Linked DNA regions of Homo sapiens. The protein of the gene in region 1 purifies or fractionates together with the protein of each later gene. This does not show direct contact. Each region holds a gene or a part of one and is shown in the gene's direction. Other genes may lie near its edges. The genes, in order: KCNJ2, ROCK2, NCAPD2 and RNPEP.

What was found.
Region 2: the proteins of KCNJ2 (region 1) and ROCK2 purify together in Homo sapiens (affinity purification with mass spectrometry, with the first as the bait; one large-scale study listed by BioGRID). This does not show direct contact.
Region 3: the proteins of KCNJ2 (region 1) and NCAPD2 purify together in Homo sapiens (affinity purification with mass spectrometry, with the first as the bait; one large-scale study listed by BioGRID). This does not show direct contact.
Region 4: the proteins of KCNJ2 (region 1) and RNPEP purify together in Homo sapiens (affinity purification with mass spectrometry, with the first as the bait; one large-scale study listed by BioGRID). This does not show direct contact.

What each region holds. Positions count from the first base shown.
Region 1 is NC_000017.11:70,172,001-70,176,261, forward strand, and holds part of KCNJ2 (inward rectifier potassium channel 2), read left to right. Parts: intron 1-2,823; 5' UTR 2,824-3,039; coding exon 3,040-4,261.
Region 2 is NC_000002.12:11,337,958-11,342,218, reverse strand, and holds part of ROCK2 (rho-associated protein kinase 2), read left to right. Parts: intron 1-4,261. UniProt on the Homo sapiens protein: Protein kinase which is a key regulator of actin cytoskeleton and cell polarity.
Region 3 is NC_000012.12:6,524,341-6,528,601, forward strand, and holds part of NCAPD2 (condensin complex subunit 1), read left to right. Parts: intron 1-1,242; coding exon 1,243-1,376; intron 1,377-1,727; coding exon 1,728-1,860; intron 1,861-1,946; coding exon 1,947-2,031; intron 2,032-2,107; coding exon 2,108-2,275; intron 2,276-2,550; coding exon 2,551-2,723; intron 2,724-3,436; coding exon 3,437-3,548; intron 3,549-3,627; coding exon 3,628-3,751; intron 3,752-3,832; coding exon 3,833-3,988; intron 3,989-4,261. UniProt on the Homo sapiens protein: Regulatory subunit of the condensin complex, a complex required for conversion of interphase chromatin into mitotic-like condense chromosomes.
Region 4 is NC_000001.11:201,988,622-201,992,882, forward strand, and holds part of RNPEP (aminopeptidase B), read left to right. Parts: intron 1-282; coding exon 283-423; intron 424-761; coding exon 762-910; intron 911-4,261. UniProt on the Homo sapiens protein: Exopeptidase which selectively removes arginine and/or lysine residues from the N-terminus of several peptide substrates including Arg(0)-Leu-enkephalin, Arg(0)-Met-enkephalin and Arg(-1)-Lys(0)-somatostatin-14.

The sequences.
Region 1 (4,261 bases):
GTAAGCCCTGTTTTTTTAATGATAGCTTTTCTCAGCTGCTCACGAATTGGTAATTGCTAGTGAGAGGACCGGGCAAGGAAGTTTTCTGCTTGCTTAAAGTCGCTCAGGCATGTGGGCAGGTTAACAGTAAAAGCAATTTTTACCATGAAATATTAAGACCGTTACCCCATCAAACCTTGACAGGTTCTAGACTTTAGCTATGTAATCAGCTCCACAAAAAGTCTGCATACATATATGTGTGTGCACCTGCATACACACATAAATCTGTTTGGGGGCATATCTATTTAAAGTGGCAAAAGTTTTCTTTTTGCCAAAAAAAAAAAAAAAAAAAAAAAAAGCCCAAAACTCCTCTTTTTCTCTTTCCAGGAAGAAATGGTAAAATTTCTAAATGATGCTCCACATGTGGAACAAATTCTGTTATTAGCAATGGAAATAAGACAATAATAGTCTCTCAATACAGGCTACTTTCAAGATTCTAAATGTGGAAAGCTATTCATAGGAAGCTGGTATTGTGTGATTTGTGGAATTCAAACAAATGTCCTGGGGTCAAGATTTTTGGAAAGTCATAATTCAGTCTTTAGATTTCATATGGTTGTTATGTTTTAATCTGGAAGGAGTACAGAAATAAGTCAGAAGAAATTTGAGACTGTCTACTCATGGCCCCTAATGGTAACTCACATGGAAGGATTGTTTTGAATCATGAAAAGGGAATTTCTTGGTGTCAGCTTATAATACAAAGTTCTGAAGTCAATCAGAACTCAAAAATACAAAGCATTCATTGAATGAAGTTCTTCTCCTTTTTTTGAAACGTATACCTGCGTTTGGTGTTGTTGCTGTCTCTGTCTGTTTAGTAATGTGAGAAAACTAAGATGAAATAATTGCTTAAAAAATGCTGTCCATGTACAGGATCTAGAACTTCGAGGGGCAGGATTCTTGTTTCTTTGGTCCAAGTGCAAACTTCACAGGGAAGCAGACAAAACATTGAAGCAGGTGGAAGGTTAGGAAAGCACAGTAACTTCTTTTTATAAAGTAATTCAAAGGCACTTTCAAACTGAGCATCATTTAGGTGTCAAAAGCTGCCAAAATGTAACACACATTGCAATTTTCAAAGATGACTAATCTCAGGAAAAATGTGTTGGGGCACATTCTTGCATAATAACTTGGATAAAGAAGAAGTCAAAAGACAGTAACAAGGCATTTTCAAAGGCAATGCACCTTGCCTCTTCTTAAGGGAATGCACAAAAACAACATAAATGGATTGCTTTATTTGTTTGCGGCTGGCTTGGCTGATATCGGTTCTATTAACTGTTTAATCTTAATGGATTTAGAGGAGAAGGAAAAAGTGGAGTCTTCATTATCAGGCATCAACAAATTTCTGACTCTTTTCATGAGTTATTCATTGCCCCCCTTTAATATAGCAGAAGGATTTGGTTGTATGAAAAGTTGAAGATGGGCTTTATTTTTCAGTTCTAACTCTTATTAGTTTTGTTATTACACATTTGGTAAAGAAAACACCTTAGACTTTCTCTTAGCTTTTTGTTAGTTAGTCAAGGGAAATAGTTTCTTAGGAGTGAAGATGGAAAGTTGAAGTACATAGATAGTTCTTAGCTAGGGAAGACTGAGGCAATAGGAGAAAACTGAGAACTACTATTTGCACATATTAAGTAAAGGTGAGTGCCTTCTCCATAGGAACCTATACCAAATAACAGCGCTGGAAGTGAAAGTAAGCGGACTGGCATTTATGATCTGTCCTTACACAGTTGTCTCTGTCTGAGAGAACACAGCACTGGACTCACATGAAATGAGTTCCTGCCTTATCTCAATCCGCTAAAGACCTGGTCCTTTGGCACAACGGTGCTTACTTCCTAGCCTGTCATTACACATGACAGCCCCATCTCAGGAGAATTTCAGGGCTCTTATTGCTAGGCAACAGAATTGCTCTCTATCCCCCAGAGCAAACCTGCATCTTCAGAGTCTTCAAGCCAGAATTACCTGTACTAATAGAGACTTAGCAGGCATTTCTGCATAGTGGTTGCTTAAAGTGTGAGAAGTGATGAAGCAAGCCCAAACAGTATCCAGAAACTGGGATCCATTTCAGATTATTATAAGCAATAGGGGCAGTATTCACCATCGTAGGAGGTTTTGTCCACTAGTTCCCTCTATTTTCAGGATACACACTCAGTCAAGCCTACTCCAAAATCCACTTCACTATTCTATTTGTAGGTGGGAATCTGACTTTCTTCCTCTAGCATTTCGTCAGCCTATCCGGTCTGCTCAGTTATATCATTTAAACAAAATAGTCTGTCTTCCGATTTCAACCTTGCCATCAGGGACTCTAATATTCTCCCGTAATGCACATGCAACTCAGTGGATATCAATGCTGCGTCCACGTGAAGTTTTCTAAACATGTCCTTTTTCCAAAAATTTTACGACAAACCTTGGAATCAGACAGTCTTTCATCTGCTTAACAGGGATCCTAGCAAGTGGGGCAGGCAGAAGAAGAGAATAAGAGAAGGGAGAGGTAGACCTGAACAATAGAATATTCTAGATCCCTGGCCAAAAAGAAGGGAAAGGGGACCTGACCTGACATTTTGGTTGAACAACTGTCACAGACAACTCTTCTATGTTTAACGACTTTATGCTTTTAAATAAAAGTTTTACAAAGCATGCTTAGGATACAAAGAAATTTAAAACCTTATAATTTAATGTAAATTATACTTATCTTTACCTGATTATGTGTTTTTGTTAGGATATATTGTCTTAGACAGTAGAATTCTTTAAGAGTGGCTTATTTTGTAATGCACAGTCTCTCTTTTCTTGCAGGACATGTTCTCTGGATGTCAGCTGAGTCATTAAAGTAACTCTGCATGTCAGTAGACAGACCTTGGTAGAACCACAAGGCTCCCAGAGACACCCATCTCTCCTCATTTTTTTGGTGTGTGTGTCTTCACCGAACATTCAAAACTGTTTCTCCAAAGCGTTTTGCAAAAACTCAGACTGTTTTCCAAAGCAGAAGCACTGGAGTCCCCAGCAGAAGCGATGGGCAGTGTGCGAACCAACCGCTACAGCATCGTCTCTTCAGAAGAAGACGGTATGAAGTTGGCCACCATGGCAGTTGCAAATGGCTTTGGGAACGGGAAGAGTAAAGTCCACACCCGACAACAGTGCAGGAGCCGCTTTGTGAAGAAAGATGGCCACTGTAATGTTCAGTTCATCAATGTGGGTGAGAAGGGGCAACGGTACCTCGCAGACATCTTCACCACGTGTGTGGACATTCGCTGGCGGTGGATGCTGGTTATCTTCTGCCTGGCTTTCGTCCTGTCATGGCTGTTTTTTGGCTGTGTGTTTTGGTTGATAGCTCTGCTCCATGGGGACCTGGATGCATCCAAAGAGGGCAAAGCTTGTGTGTCCGAGGTCAACAGCTTCACGGCTGCCTTCCTCTTCTCCATTGAGACCCAGACAACCATAGGCTATGGTTTCAGATGTGTCACGGATGAATGCCCAATTGCTGTTTTCATGGTGGTGTTCCAGTCAATCGTGGGCTGCATCATCGATGCTTTCATCATTGGCGCAGTCATGGCCAAGATGGCAAAGCCAAAGAAGAGAAACGAGACTCTTGTCTTCAGTCACAATGCCGTGATTGCCATGAGAGACGGCAAGCTGTGTTTGATGTGGCGAGTGGGCAATCTTCGGAAAAGCCACTTGGTGGAAGCTCATGTTCGAGCACAGCTCCTCAAATCCAGAATTACTTCTGAAGGGGAGTATATCCCTCTGGATCAAATAGACATCAATGTTGGGTTTGACAGTGGAATCGATCGTATATTTCTGGTGTCCCCAATCACTATAGTCCATGAAATAGATGAAGACAGTCCTTTATATGATTTGAGTAAACAGGACATTGACAACGCAGACTTTGAAATCGTGGTCATACTGGAAGGCATGGTGGAAGCCACTGCCATGACGACACAGTGCCGTAGCTCTTATCTAGCAAATGAAATCCTGTGGGGCCACCGCTATGAGCCTGTGCTCTTTGAAGAGAAGCACTACTACAAAGTGGACTATTCCAGGTTCCACAAAACTTACGAAGTCCCCAACACTCCCCTTTGTAGTGCCAGAGACTTAGCAGAAAAGAAATATATCCTCTCAAATGCAAATTCATTTTGCTATGAAAATGAAGTTGCCCTCACAAGCAAAGAGGAAGACGACAGTGAAAATGGAGTTCCAGAAAGCACTAGTACGGACACGCCCCCTGACATAGACC
Region 2 (4,261 bases), on another chromosome or scaffold:
ACTCTGTTATTGCTGTTTCTAGTTGGTTAAATATGCTTGAGGTGCAGTAAACCTTTCCAAGCCAAAATGCGTCCCTTATTCCTTTGGAGCAAGGTTCCTGGTGTTTCTGTTACAAATTGATAAACGAAATTTAAAAATTTTTTTATAATAAATTAATTTTAAATTACGCGTATTTTATTTATGAACTACTAGAATGGATTTTTTATTGTGGTAGCGTATACAGAATTTACCATTTTTAACCATTTTTAAGTGTACAGGTTAGTGGCAGGCATTAAATACATTCACATTGTTGTGCAGCCATCACCACTATCCGTCTCTGGAATCTTTTCATTTTTCCAAACTGAAACTGTAAATTAATGTTTAAAAGAATGTTATAAAAATTATATTTCCTGAAATACTGACGAAATAATGGCTGGTATCACTTTAAAGATCTGAAACCTTAGCATTTAGGTTGCATTTCACTATTGGTCATTGTTTTACTGCCTATGACATTTATTTTTTGGTTTTGCCATGGGAAATACATATTTTGTCTTTAACAGAAAATTTAAAGGAATATAATTTAAAGCAAACACAGCTGCGACACTACATTCAGGAGCTCAGAAAGTACCATTAAAAATAGTATATACCTAAGATGACAAAAGAAGATGAAGTACACCAGAAATGATTGTATGATGCTTTCAGTGGGCTAGGCCTAGAAGGTAAAACTCTGTAGGAAACAAAGTTTTATGAGATAACGTGTAAAGTGCTTAGCCTAGTGCTTGGTACATCACAGTGCTCATTAAATTTAGTTCACTTCTCCTGTGCACACTTAGCATGTTATTAGTTAACTGCTTTAAATTTTCTTTTCAAAGGAAAATGGTTTTATTTGCAACTATTTCTTGCTACATAATTTTGAGTGAGTAGCATTATCATTTGAATTTGTCATCAGAAAAGTGCTAGCAATCATTAGGCATAGGTAGAGCTGGATTCCAAGACTAAATCAGTGTAAAGATGACATCTTGTTTCTCTGCAAAGGCTCATGGCTTTATGTGGGTCCTTAAATTAATCTGAGAAGAGTATATCTCTTTTATGGTTGCAGATTGTGAGCCGCTTAGTATTACTTAGAGTTTTGCTTCTCTACTGCCTCTTTTTTTTTTTGGAGGCGAGTCTTCAGTAATATGCTTTTGTAGTGTTTGAAACCTTTGGGTAAATACCTATGCTTTGTTGTCAAGACCAGCTTCTCATACTGCTTACCTATTATGGTAAAAAGAACTGTGTTTCAGGCTTTGCTGAAGAGATATTTTTCTAAAGGTCTGTGCTTTTTGAGTGTTGATTTATTTTACTCTTTCAAAGAGTAAACAGTCACAATAACCTGTAGGACTCACGCTTGGGTAAACTCTTACTTAAGACTTGTGTGGATGGGCAAAGGTGATTAAAACTTTGTTTACAATTTTCAGTGGCATAAAACATAAAATAATTTGATTGATTTCATTATACTTGTAAACTATCTGACAATATTATCTCAGTGCTTAGACTCTTTCAGCATGCTGCTGGTTATTTGCCTAGTTAAAATAAAATTGTATGTGTATTTTTCCCATCATGTAATAAGTAAGAACATTATAAAGATACAATAAAAATGAAATAGAATAAAAATTAAAAATCATTTTATACATTTTTTTCTTTATGAAGAGTTTGGCATTTATAGTGTAAAATTTGTGACTAGTTTACTTTAAAACTTTCATGTTGATAGGAGATATTTAAAGAAAATGAGTTAGCTAGGGAGGTTTTAAAAAAAAGGTGATGTGTGGAACTTACTGTTGATGTGAAGCAAGTGCAGGTCCGCAATCCCTTATCCACAATTTTGATATATAAAAAACCCAGTTTTTGGTAAAATGTATTTGATGATAACATCTGACCTAATCTCACATTAGAATACTTGTGGTCTAGTCATTCCTCTTGATGTAAATAATAATGCCTTTTGCTGGAGGAATATGAATGTATTTGATTTCAGGGTGTTGCCCAGATTTTCAAGAGCATTTTTGGGAGTACACAGTATATGTACTGTGTACCTTTCTAAAATCCAAGAAATTCTGAGTTCGGAAACATTTTGGTCCCAGGGTAAGGCCAATGTAGACTAAGTAAGGAAATACGGACTTACATACACTTCAGTAGCTGTAAATAAATAGTGGATAATTATCTTGAAACCTAACTTTTTTGTTTTTTATTTCCCAAGTCTTGATCAGATAGCCCTCTTTTTCCCATTTTGAATTCTAAAAATATAGTATGCAAATATAAGTTACGAAGCGTAAAAACATATTCATGAAATCACCACACAAGTTAATAAGTGGAACACTAGCCTGTAGAAGTTACCTGTGTGCCGTCGCCGCTGCTGGATTCAGTCTTCCTGCATCCTCTCTCATCTGCTACCCTGAACATTTTATTGTTCCTTTGCTTCATTTCATAGATTACTACATTTGTGTGTATCTCTAAACAATATTGTTTAGTTTTACTTGTTTTTTTAACTTTATAAAATGTCAGCATTTTTATGTATTCTTTTATGACTTGCTTTATTTACTGAAAATGGTGTTTCTAAGATTCACTAACATTGTGGGTTATTCATATTCTCTGCTATGATAATCAGTATAGCTCCGATCTACTTAATGGATATTTACAGTTTTCTTTCTTTCTTTTTTTTTTGTTTTTTTTTTTCTGTTATGGAAAGTGTTGCTAGGAGCATTTCTGGAGCTCACGTGAATAATTCCTGTAGATTAGGGTATATATCTGGGAGTGGAATTGCTGGATTTTAAGATATACTATGTTCAGTCAACTTAATATAATGGATAGAGTTGAAAATTTTCCCCATGATGTTATTATAGAAAATTTCGAAGTATAGTAAGGGTGAAAAAATCGACAGTGAACATCCATATATTTACCGCATAATTAATATTTTGCTGTATTTGCTGTATTTTCTTTATCTGTCCATTCCTTTATCCATCTATCAATACATCTTTTATTTTTGGTTCACTTAAAGTAAATTGGAGATATTAGTATACTTCACCTTCAAACACTTCAGTATGTATTTAATTAAGAAGAGTTCAATATTTGTTTAGATTTTTTAAAGATTAAATTTGCATGCAATGAAATGCACAGATCTGAAGTGTACCGCTGGTGAGTTTTGACAAATGCACACACCTATTTAATGCAAATTCTTGTAAAAATACAGACCATTATTACCAACTCAGAAATCTCCTTCACACCTTTTCAGCTAATTTCACACACCATTTTCTTCTATTAGAGGCAGTCATTCTTCTGATTTTTTTTTTTTTTTGCAGTAAAGATTACTTTGACTTCTTCTATACTTCATAAAAATGGAATCATATAGTATATACTTTTCTGTGTCTGGCTTCTTTAATTTAGCATTGTTTCTGAGAGTTATCTGTGTTATTGTGTGTGTCAGCAGTTTATTCCTTTTTCTCATTGTTGAATTGTCTTCTGTTATATGTATAAACTGCAGTTTGCTTGGATATCTCGTGTTGATGCATACCTGGACTAGTTTTCAGTTTTTTGTTTTCAGAATGTACACTGGTCCCTTGGTGTTCTCCGGGGATTGGTTCCAGGATACTTGCCTTATAGTCTGCCTACGTACCAAAATCCGACGACGCACAGTCCTTTTTATAAAATGGCATTAGTATTTGCATGTAATCTGTGCATATCCTCCATATACTTTAAGTCATCTCTAGATTACTTACAATGCCTAATACGATACTGTATTGTTTTAGTTTGTATTTTTTAATTTTTATTTTTTTTCCAAATTATTTTTGATCCATGGTTGGATTCATGGATACAGAGTGCTGAGTGTATTATATATTTTGGCTTGATTTTTTTAAAATATGGAGACAAGATCTTGCTCTCTTGCTCAGGCTGGGATGCAGTGGTGTAGTCATAGCGCACTATAACCTTCAACTCCTGGTCTCAATGATCCTTCCAACTTAGCCCCTCTAGTAGGGACTACAGGCCTGTGCCACTGTAATTGGCTAATTTTTATTTTATTTTATTTTTGCAGAAATGGGGTCTTGCTGTGTTGTCCAGGCTGGTCTCAAACTCCTGGCCTCAAGTGATCCTCCAGCCTCAGCCCCTGAAAACGTTGGATTAGAGGCCTGAGCCACTGCACCCAGCCTACTTTGGCTCTTAATACAGTTGTTATGAAAGTTTTCATTTCTTTTGGGTAAATTAAATACCTTGTAGTGGAATTGCTAACTCATAGGGCAGATATGTGTTTACT
Region 3 (4,261 bases), on another chromosome or scaffold:
TTCAAATTATCTGGAAAAGACCAGGCGCGATGGCTCACGTCTGTAATCCCAGCACTTTGGGAGGCCAAGGCAGCAGATTACCTGAGGTCTGAGGTCAGGAGTTCGAGACCAGCCTGGTCAACATGGCGAAACCCCACCTTTACTAAAAATACAAAAAAATTAGCCAGGTGTGGTGGTGGGCACCTGTAGTCCCAGCTACTTGGGAGGCTGAGGCAGGACAGTTGCTTGAACCCAGGAGGTGGAGGTAGCAGTGAGCCGAGATTGCGCCACTGCACTCCAGCCTGGGCGACAGAGGGAGACTCTGTCTCAAAAAAAAAAAAAAAAAAAAAAATCTGGAAAAGATAATAAAGTTGTGAATGTAGGTTGGAACTAAACTGTGGAAGTCCCTGAATGACTTCAGGAGTCTAGGACTTTAACTGTGTTAGCCAGGCACCCAGCATTTTAGTGAGACATTCTGCTTTGTAGCATTTGCATTGCGGGCACAGAGAGTGGAGGTGGCGCTGGGAAGCGTGCTCCTGCCAGCCACATTTTTCTCCTCACTGGGGAAAAGAAAAGAGCCTGGTGGTGGTGATTGGCCATGATGTCATAGGTCAGTTACCGGCAAAAGCCCTACAAGAGGCAGGGGAGAGCACCTGCAAACTGGGGTGCAACAGAAGGGACGTGGGGAAGCAGAGGCTGAGGAGACCAACCCATGGGAAGGAAGGCCCGTGGAGGCTGCTGCAGTGGGCAGTAACGAGGGGCTGGACTTGAGGATTGGAGAAATCACTGCAGAATGGGCTTAATGGAAGACAAATTTTTAAAGGAAAAATAGTGACTGATTTGTAAAAAAATTAGATGACCGAAATTTTAAGCACATATTACTGATAGAGTGTTGATACCACTGGCAAAATGAAAAGGCAAGGAAGGATGATGGCTTCCATGTTGGACATGTTGAGTTTGTGGTAACGGCAAGAAAACCTGTTAGAAATCTCCAGACTTAGAACTATGGACCCACGTGGAACTCAAAAGGTCAGTTTCGATATGTCACTTGAATAAAATAGTTTTGAAGGCATGAGAGTAGAAAAGTAGAGAATGGAAAGCCTCTCAAGACCCTGCTGTACATTTTGAACCTCCTCTTTTCTTTTTCTCTTCCTAAGTATTACTTTTGTCTACTTCAGGTTCGCAATATCATCTTCAGAAAAGCAGACCAAAGATCAAGGAATTGTTCATTTTTGGCTTGAGCCCTTTTTCTTTTCTCTTTAGCTCTGTGAGTTTGTGCAGAAGGATGAGTTGAAACCAGCAGTGACCCAGCTGCTGTGGGAGCGGGCCACCGAGAAGGTCGCCTGCTGTCCTCTGGAGCGCTGTTCCTCTGTCATGCTTCTTGGCATGATGGCACGGTGAGGCTCAAATCTAGCAGGCAATGGGGTGGGAGAGCAAAGGAAGGTTCTGAGAGGGCTCCTTTTCCTTCAGTGACATTGTCACAGTGAGGCCCAACTGAGCTCTGCTGTGAGTTATAACGCCACCTAAATGGAAAAGCAAATAGTGAGAGGACCAGCCCTCCTGCCTAGTAGTAGTGGGATTCAGTAAAGCAACAGGACCCAAGAGGCTGGCCCTGCGGCAGAGCCACGCTATAGTGCTCCACGGCTCTAGACACCACATGAGGTGCTGGTACCTACCCCTATTGGCCCTTTCTCCCCCGATGAGTCCAATCCATGACTGCCTTTAACTCTGTGGCTTCCTTCCCCTAGAGGAAAGCCAGAAATTGTGGGAAGCAATTTAGACACACTGGTGAGCATAGGGCTGGATGAGAAGTTTCCACAGGACTACAGGCTGGCCCAGCAGGTGTGCCATGCCATTGCCAACATCTCGGACAGGAGAAAGGTATGTGGGGGTGGTTCCAAACTAAGGAGAGTGGAGATTCTCGTGTCCACCCTGTACACACACCCACGTTGTCTTGCTCTCCACAGCCTTCTCTGGGCAAACGTCACCCCCCCTTCCGGCTGCCTCAGGAACACAGGTTGTTTGAGCGACTGCGGGAGACAGTCACAAAAGGTGAGCTCTCAGGGAAGGCCTTGGGCAGAATTGGGCCCTTTGTTGCAGTAAACAACTTCTCCCTCCTCCTCTGCAGGCTTTGTCCACCCAGACCCACTCTGGATCCCATTCAAAGAGGTGGCAGTGACCCTCATTTACCAACTGGCAGAGGGCCCCGAAGTGATCTGTGCCCAGATATTGCAGGGCTGTGCAAAACAGGCCCTGGAGAAGCTAGAAGAGAAGAGAACCAGTCAGGAGGACCCGAGTAAGTGGGCAGGGGTTGACCCACTGCGGCAGCCAGCTTCTGTTCTCCCTGCAGGGCCAGGAGCCACTGCCACCACCACTATCTGCAACAACCCTTAGTGTACACTGTGTCGTTTTTGTCTAAGTTGAAGTTGGGCCAGTTCCCACCCCCAACTCTTACTACTTCACTAGTTTGAATAGCACGTGAGCAAGGGGAAGATCAGTAAAAATCGGATTCAGGTTTGATGGGACTTAAAAATGTCTCTTTGCCCCACCTTCCCTCTCCCTCTCCTCCAGAGGAGTCCCCCGCAATGCTCCCCACTTTCCTGTTGATGAACCTGCTGTCCCTGGCTGGGGATGTGGCTCTGCAGCAGCTGGTCCACTTGGAGCAGGCAGTGAGTGGAGAGCTCTGCCGGCGCCGAGTTCTCCGGGAAGAACAGGAGCACAAGACCAAAGATCCCAAGGAGAAGGTGTGTGAATGTCCTCAGCACTTCCCAGATTTATTTCATACCTCAGCTCAGAACTGAGCTGATCCCCTTCCGGCAATCTCTGCTCCTCTGCTATTACATGAAGCGAAGAGTTTCTGCCTCTCTGTGGCTACTACCGTAGGAAAGGTTCGTGTGAACAATGACGAAACTGTCAGTGATCACCCAGGAAGGAAAGATTTAGGTAAATGCAGAGTGTGGAGTTAGAGACCTCAGCATAAAACAGAGGCTTTGTGTCTGAGGCAGGGTTTGTTAGAACACGCACGTACCCGCCGGCCTTTTCCATCAGCTTCCATTGCTGGCCTGGCCCCGGATGGGGCCCTGTGTTCCCTCCACTAGAGGCAATGATGTCTTGCAGACAAATAAGACACAGAGCCTTGCAGCGCTGGAGAAAAGTCTGACCTCTGTGACTTTGAACCATTGTCTGGCGTGATCCATCTGTTTACCATATATAGGAAACGATGTCTTCCATGAGGAAGAGGTGCAGAAACACGCTTTGGCAACTTAAAACAAATGGGGACCTCATTGTTCCCCTGCTTAATTCAGGAATCCTTTCTCTTTACAGACACATTTGACAATTCTCTAAATGTTTTTGTAGAATTTGCCCTTCCTCACTTTGTTCATGCAAAACAAAGTATGGGCTGGAATCAAAAATGTTGTCTCTGCTTATCCATGATCCCCAATTTCATTCCCTTTAGAATACGAGCTCTGAGACCACCATGGAGGAGGAGCTGGGGCTGGTTGGGGCAACAGCAGATGACACAGAGGCAGAACTAATCCGTGGCATCTGCGAGATGGAACTGTTGGATGGTAAGAAAAATGGCTGCACTCAGCAGTTTCTTCCCAATTAAGATAACCTGTCCCAAACCTGCAGTTACTCTTCCAACAGGCAAACAGACACTGGCTGCCTTTGTTCCACTCTTGCTTAAAGTCTGTAACAACCCAGGCCTCTATAGCAACCCAGACCTCTCTGCAGCTGCTTCACTTGCCCTTGGCAAGTTCTGCATGATCAGGTAGGCCGTGGGGTTGGTACCCCCTTCTCAAGGAAGATGGGGATGAAATGGCTTCCCTAATGATCCTCTTCTTGCTCTTAGTGCCACTTTCTGCGACTCCCAGCTTCGTCTTCTGTTCACCATGCTGGAAAAGTCTCCACTTCCCATTGTCCGGTCTAACCTCATGGTTGCCACTGGGGATCTGGCCATCCGCTTTCCCAATCTGGTGGACCCCTGGACTCCTCATCTGTATGCTCGGTAAGAGACCCCTCACAACGTGGTGGCAGTTCCCAGGAGCCCCGGAGTCTGTTGAGAGTCAGTGTGAGAATCACCAGGGCTCTTCCCCTAGGCTTTGGCATCACCGCGAACATCTGCTTGATACTTGACCTGTACAGGCCCCTGGCTAAGAGTCACCCCAGTGGGACTGACACTTCTGGTTAGAAGCTTCACCTCTTTCCCCCACTCCAGCTTTCAACTCTAGACAGCTTTCTGACTGCTTCTGGAGTGGCAGAGCATGGGATAATTGATTCC
Region 4 (4,261 bases), on another chromosome or scaffold:
ATCAGAGGCTCGGTCCAAGGTCTCTGAGATGACCCATGGGATGCAGTGAGGAATGGACCCTTTCTGGTGGCTCTGCCCTGTGAAGTGGATGTCATACTTTGGCATGGATTCCAGGATGAACTAAATACACAGAGGAGAGAGCTTTCTAGTTCAAACCAGACTGGCTGGCGGAAAGGTTTTAAGGATTACCTAAAATTCTCTCATTCCAGCCAGCTCACTTCTCTGGCCAGACTGAGCTCGTGTGGGAGATGTCAGTTCTGAAATGTTCTTCTTTTCGCTTAGGTTTGCTGGTTGGCTCCCGAGCAGACAGCAGGAAAGAAGAAGCCCTTCGTGTACACCCAGGGCCAGGCTGTCCTAAACCGGGCCTTCTTCCCTTGCTTCGACACGCCTGCTGTTAAATACAAGTATTCAGCTCTTATTGAGGTAAGGAGACTAAGGTTAGGTGCACCTGCCCTTGGGATGAAGAAATGATTTCAGATCTATCAATCAGGTCACGTTTCAGTGGTAAATTATTATATCCATTCAGTGGTACTTCTGAAAAATTGCTTACTTTTAAATTCTTCCACCTACTGAAGTTGTATGTAGCCTTCCTCTAAATCCCATCAGTTGAGCACAGATTTAGTTTCTTGAAACCTTTGTGTTCTCCAAGATAGACTCCAGGCCATTATCATCACACACAGGTGGCCGGTCATGCTCTTATTCAAACTAATCAAAAGGAAACTCTCTCCAGGTAAAATCTCCTAAGCTTTCTCTGTTGTCAGGTCCCAGATGGCTTCACAGCTGTGATGAGTGCTAGCACCTGGGAGAAGAGAGGTCCAAATAAGTTCTTCTTCCAGATGTGTCAGCCCATCCCCTCCTATCTGATAGCTTTGGCCATCGGAGATCTGGTTTCGGCTGAAGTTGGACCCAGGTAGGAGACAAAGACCCCACAGGCAAGGTTGGATTGGCCTCAGAGGTGAGGAGGACTCTGACCAGTGGACCTGCTGGGGGGGTTCTTGGGCAGTCTTGGATCCTCTGTCTGAGTCCAGAGCCTTTCTGCAGCTCATGCAGCATGAGCACAGCTGGAGGAAGTGCTCTTTTTCTCCCTGCCTTTCTCACTCCCTCTCTCCAGTTCTAATCCTGCTGCCTGGAATGAGATCATCATCCCTGCTAGCAGTAGCGCTGTCCTGGGCTGCCTTACAGAGGGATGTTGGAATTTAGGCTGCAGTTTTGGGAAATGGATTTTTTTTTTTTTTTGAGATGGAGTCTTGCTGTGTTGCCCAGGCTGGACTGGAGTGCAATGGTGCGATCTTGGCTCACTGCAACCTCTGCCTCCTGGGTTCAAGCGATTCTCCTGCCCCAGCCTCCCAAGTAACTGGGACTGCAGGCATGCCCCACCACGCTCGGCTAATTTTTGTATTTTTCGTAGAGACGGGGTTTCACCATGTTGGCCAGGCTGCTCTTGAACTCCTGACCTCAGGTGATTCACCCGCCTTGGCCTCCCAAAGTGCTGGGATTACAGGCATGAGCCATCATGCCCGGCCTGGGAAATGGATCTTTATTAATATCTTTAAGTTCTAAATGCCCTTCTAGCAGCTATATCCACTTTCCTATCTTTGTACCAAATCTTCCCCATTTTCTTTTGCACGTAGTTCCTGGAAATAACAACTTTGGTATCATTTCCCTCGAAGAGGGAAGTGGACTCTCCTTCCTATCTGCAGCAGATGCATGAGTCTAAGCCTACGGTGAGAGCAATGCCTCCGTGAAGTTACATGGATCTTGTGAAGATAAAAAGGGATTTTGTAAGGTTTCCTGATAAAAGAGGTTTGACCAGGAGTATAGGTTTTTCCTGGCTCTCATATTACCTCCACCATAGCTTAGTCCCAATGTGGGAGCATCACAGGCTGGACGGTGAAGCCGTGACCTTTTCCTGGCACTGTTGCTGTTCTTTATCTCTGGCCCTGCTCCCAGTTCCTAGAGGCAGTGGTGTCCTTGACAACATTAGTTACGAGCCTCAGACTTCATAACTGGGCTCAGTGGCACTGCTGGTATCATGAGTCTTAGTTTCTGGTTATCAGTTGGAATAATAAATGGGATTCCATTGGCATCTGCTCCCAGCGCACACATTCAAAACAATACCAGTCTGGAAAGACAAAGTGCCCTCCTCTTACGAAGGGCTGTCTTCCTAATAGGCAGGGCGGGAAATAACCAAAAGGATGTCATCTTTGCAATAGACAAGCAAGTAGATAAGTAAAGGAACGTCGTTTCCAAGAATACCCTTACTAAGGTTCTACTTGTAAGAGTATGAACTATTAATGGGAAATGAGAGAACAATAGATTCTAAAGATACTGAGTGATAATGATTTCTTTTTATACTGCCTGTAATAAAATGACAACATGGTATATCGAACTAGGTGACAGAATCCACTTAACTGGTGGTAATGCCTTATTCCTTCCGTGATTAAATGGACAGTTCTTGCCTCCTGGGTCACATCGTAGGGTCTTGTGGGGGGTTATTTATTTATTATTTTTGAGATGGCGTCTTGCTCTGTTGCCCAGGCTGGAGTGCAGTGGCGCGATCTTGGCTCACCACAACCTCCGCCTCCTGGGTTCAAGTGATTCTCCTGCCTCAGCCTCCCAAGTAGCTGGGACTACAGGTGTGTGCCACCATTTCTGGCTAATTTTCATATTTTTAATAGAGACAGGGTTTCACTATGTTGGCCAGGCTAGTCTTGAACTCCTGACCTCGTGATCCATCCACCTCGGCCTCCCAAAGTGCTCGATTACAGGCATGAGCCACCACGCCGGGCCGTGGGGGTTTATTAAATCGGAGGGTCTTCTGGCAAGGTATGCCACCTATCCCAGTCCCTGTTACTGCAAGAGGAAAATCCTGGGCAGAGGGGAATTATGGGTATATCCCAGTAGGCCCTTTTATGTATAATCTCTTCTAATCCTTACACAGACTCCATGAGGATGATACTTTCTACATTTTAAAAATAAGCAAACCAAGGCTGTGGTGAGTGGCTTGTGCAGGACCACTAGTTGGCAAAACTGGAATTAAAATTCAGGTATTTCCATTGCAAATCCAGTGCTCTTTGCAATATACTACAGGTAGTGAGATTGCAGCTTGACTGAGAGCATCCTGATTTATTTTGACAGAAATGTGTGTCCTGGTGGAGGTATCTTGGATGACTGTCTTAAACCTTCTAGTTGTAACAAGCTGAAGTCCACTGGGCTGAAGGACTGTGGTAATTTTGACATCCAAGGTGGTGGTAGAACAATTCACAAAGTAATTCCTTGAAGATACTGACTGCCGTCCCATGATCTTTTTCTGTCTGGTTTCCTGTCACATCATCTTTGGCGACTTTTCTCTCCTAACACCCAGGGTTGAGGGTGGCTGCAGGGTTTCTTGTGCCTTTCTCCCTCCCTCCCTCCCTCCCTCTTTCTTTCTTTTCTTGCCTCGCTCTCTTGCCCAGGCTGGAATGCAGTGGCACAATAACAGCCCATTGAACCTCAAGCTACCAGGCTCAAGCAGTCCTCCCACTTCAGTCTCCAGAGTAGCTGGGACCACAGCTACTCTGTCACCATGCCCAGTTAATTTTATTTATTTTCTGCAGGAGCAAGGTCTTGCTATGTTGTCCAGGCTGATCTTGAACTCCTGGGCTCAAGAGATCCTCCCACCTCGGCCTCCCAAAGTGTTGGGATTGCAGGCATGAGCCACAACACCAACCTTCAGGGTTTCTTGACCTCTACTCAGGGAGCCTTCTCCACTCTGTCAGCCACCCATATTCACACCCATGCTCTGGAGTCTAGAGCCTAGACATCGTCATTGTCATGAACTGTACCATATCTGAACTTTTAAGGCCCTTGAGCCCCTTGTCCTCATTCATCCTGACTCTGCTAACCTTCCAGCTCTCTGACGGCCTCTCTCCCACTATATTCCACCATGTCTCCTCCTTGAGCTCATGGCAGCCTCCCTTCCGGCAAGCCACTCATTTCTCCTGGGCAGTCAAGACCCTCCTGACTGGGCTTCCCTCCCTGGCCCAAGTGTGTGGTTGGTTACCTCTTACCAACACCCCAAAGCCCCTTGCCCACTTCCCGCTGCTATAATGTCCCAGTCCCTTGTTATACAATTCCTTTTCTCTACTTCTATAAGTGGGTATTTGGGAGATGTAGAAAATAGTGAAACTACACAGTAATAACCACTACACCTTTCTCAATTCTTCGTGAAAAGTTGGAATTAAAGGAAAGTTGAAATAGACATGTGTGGGGTTTTCCAGAA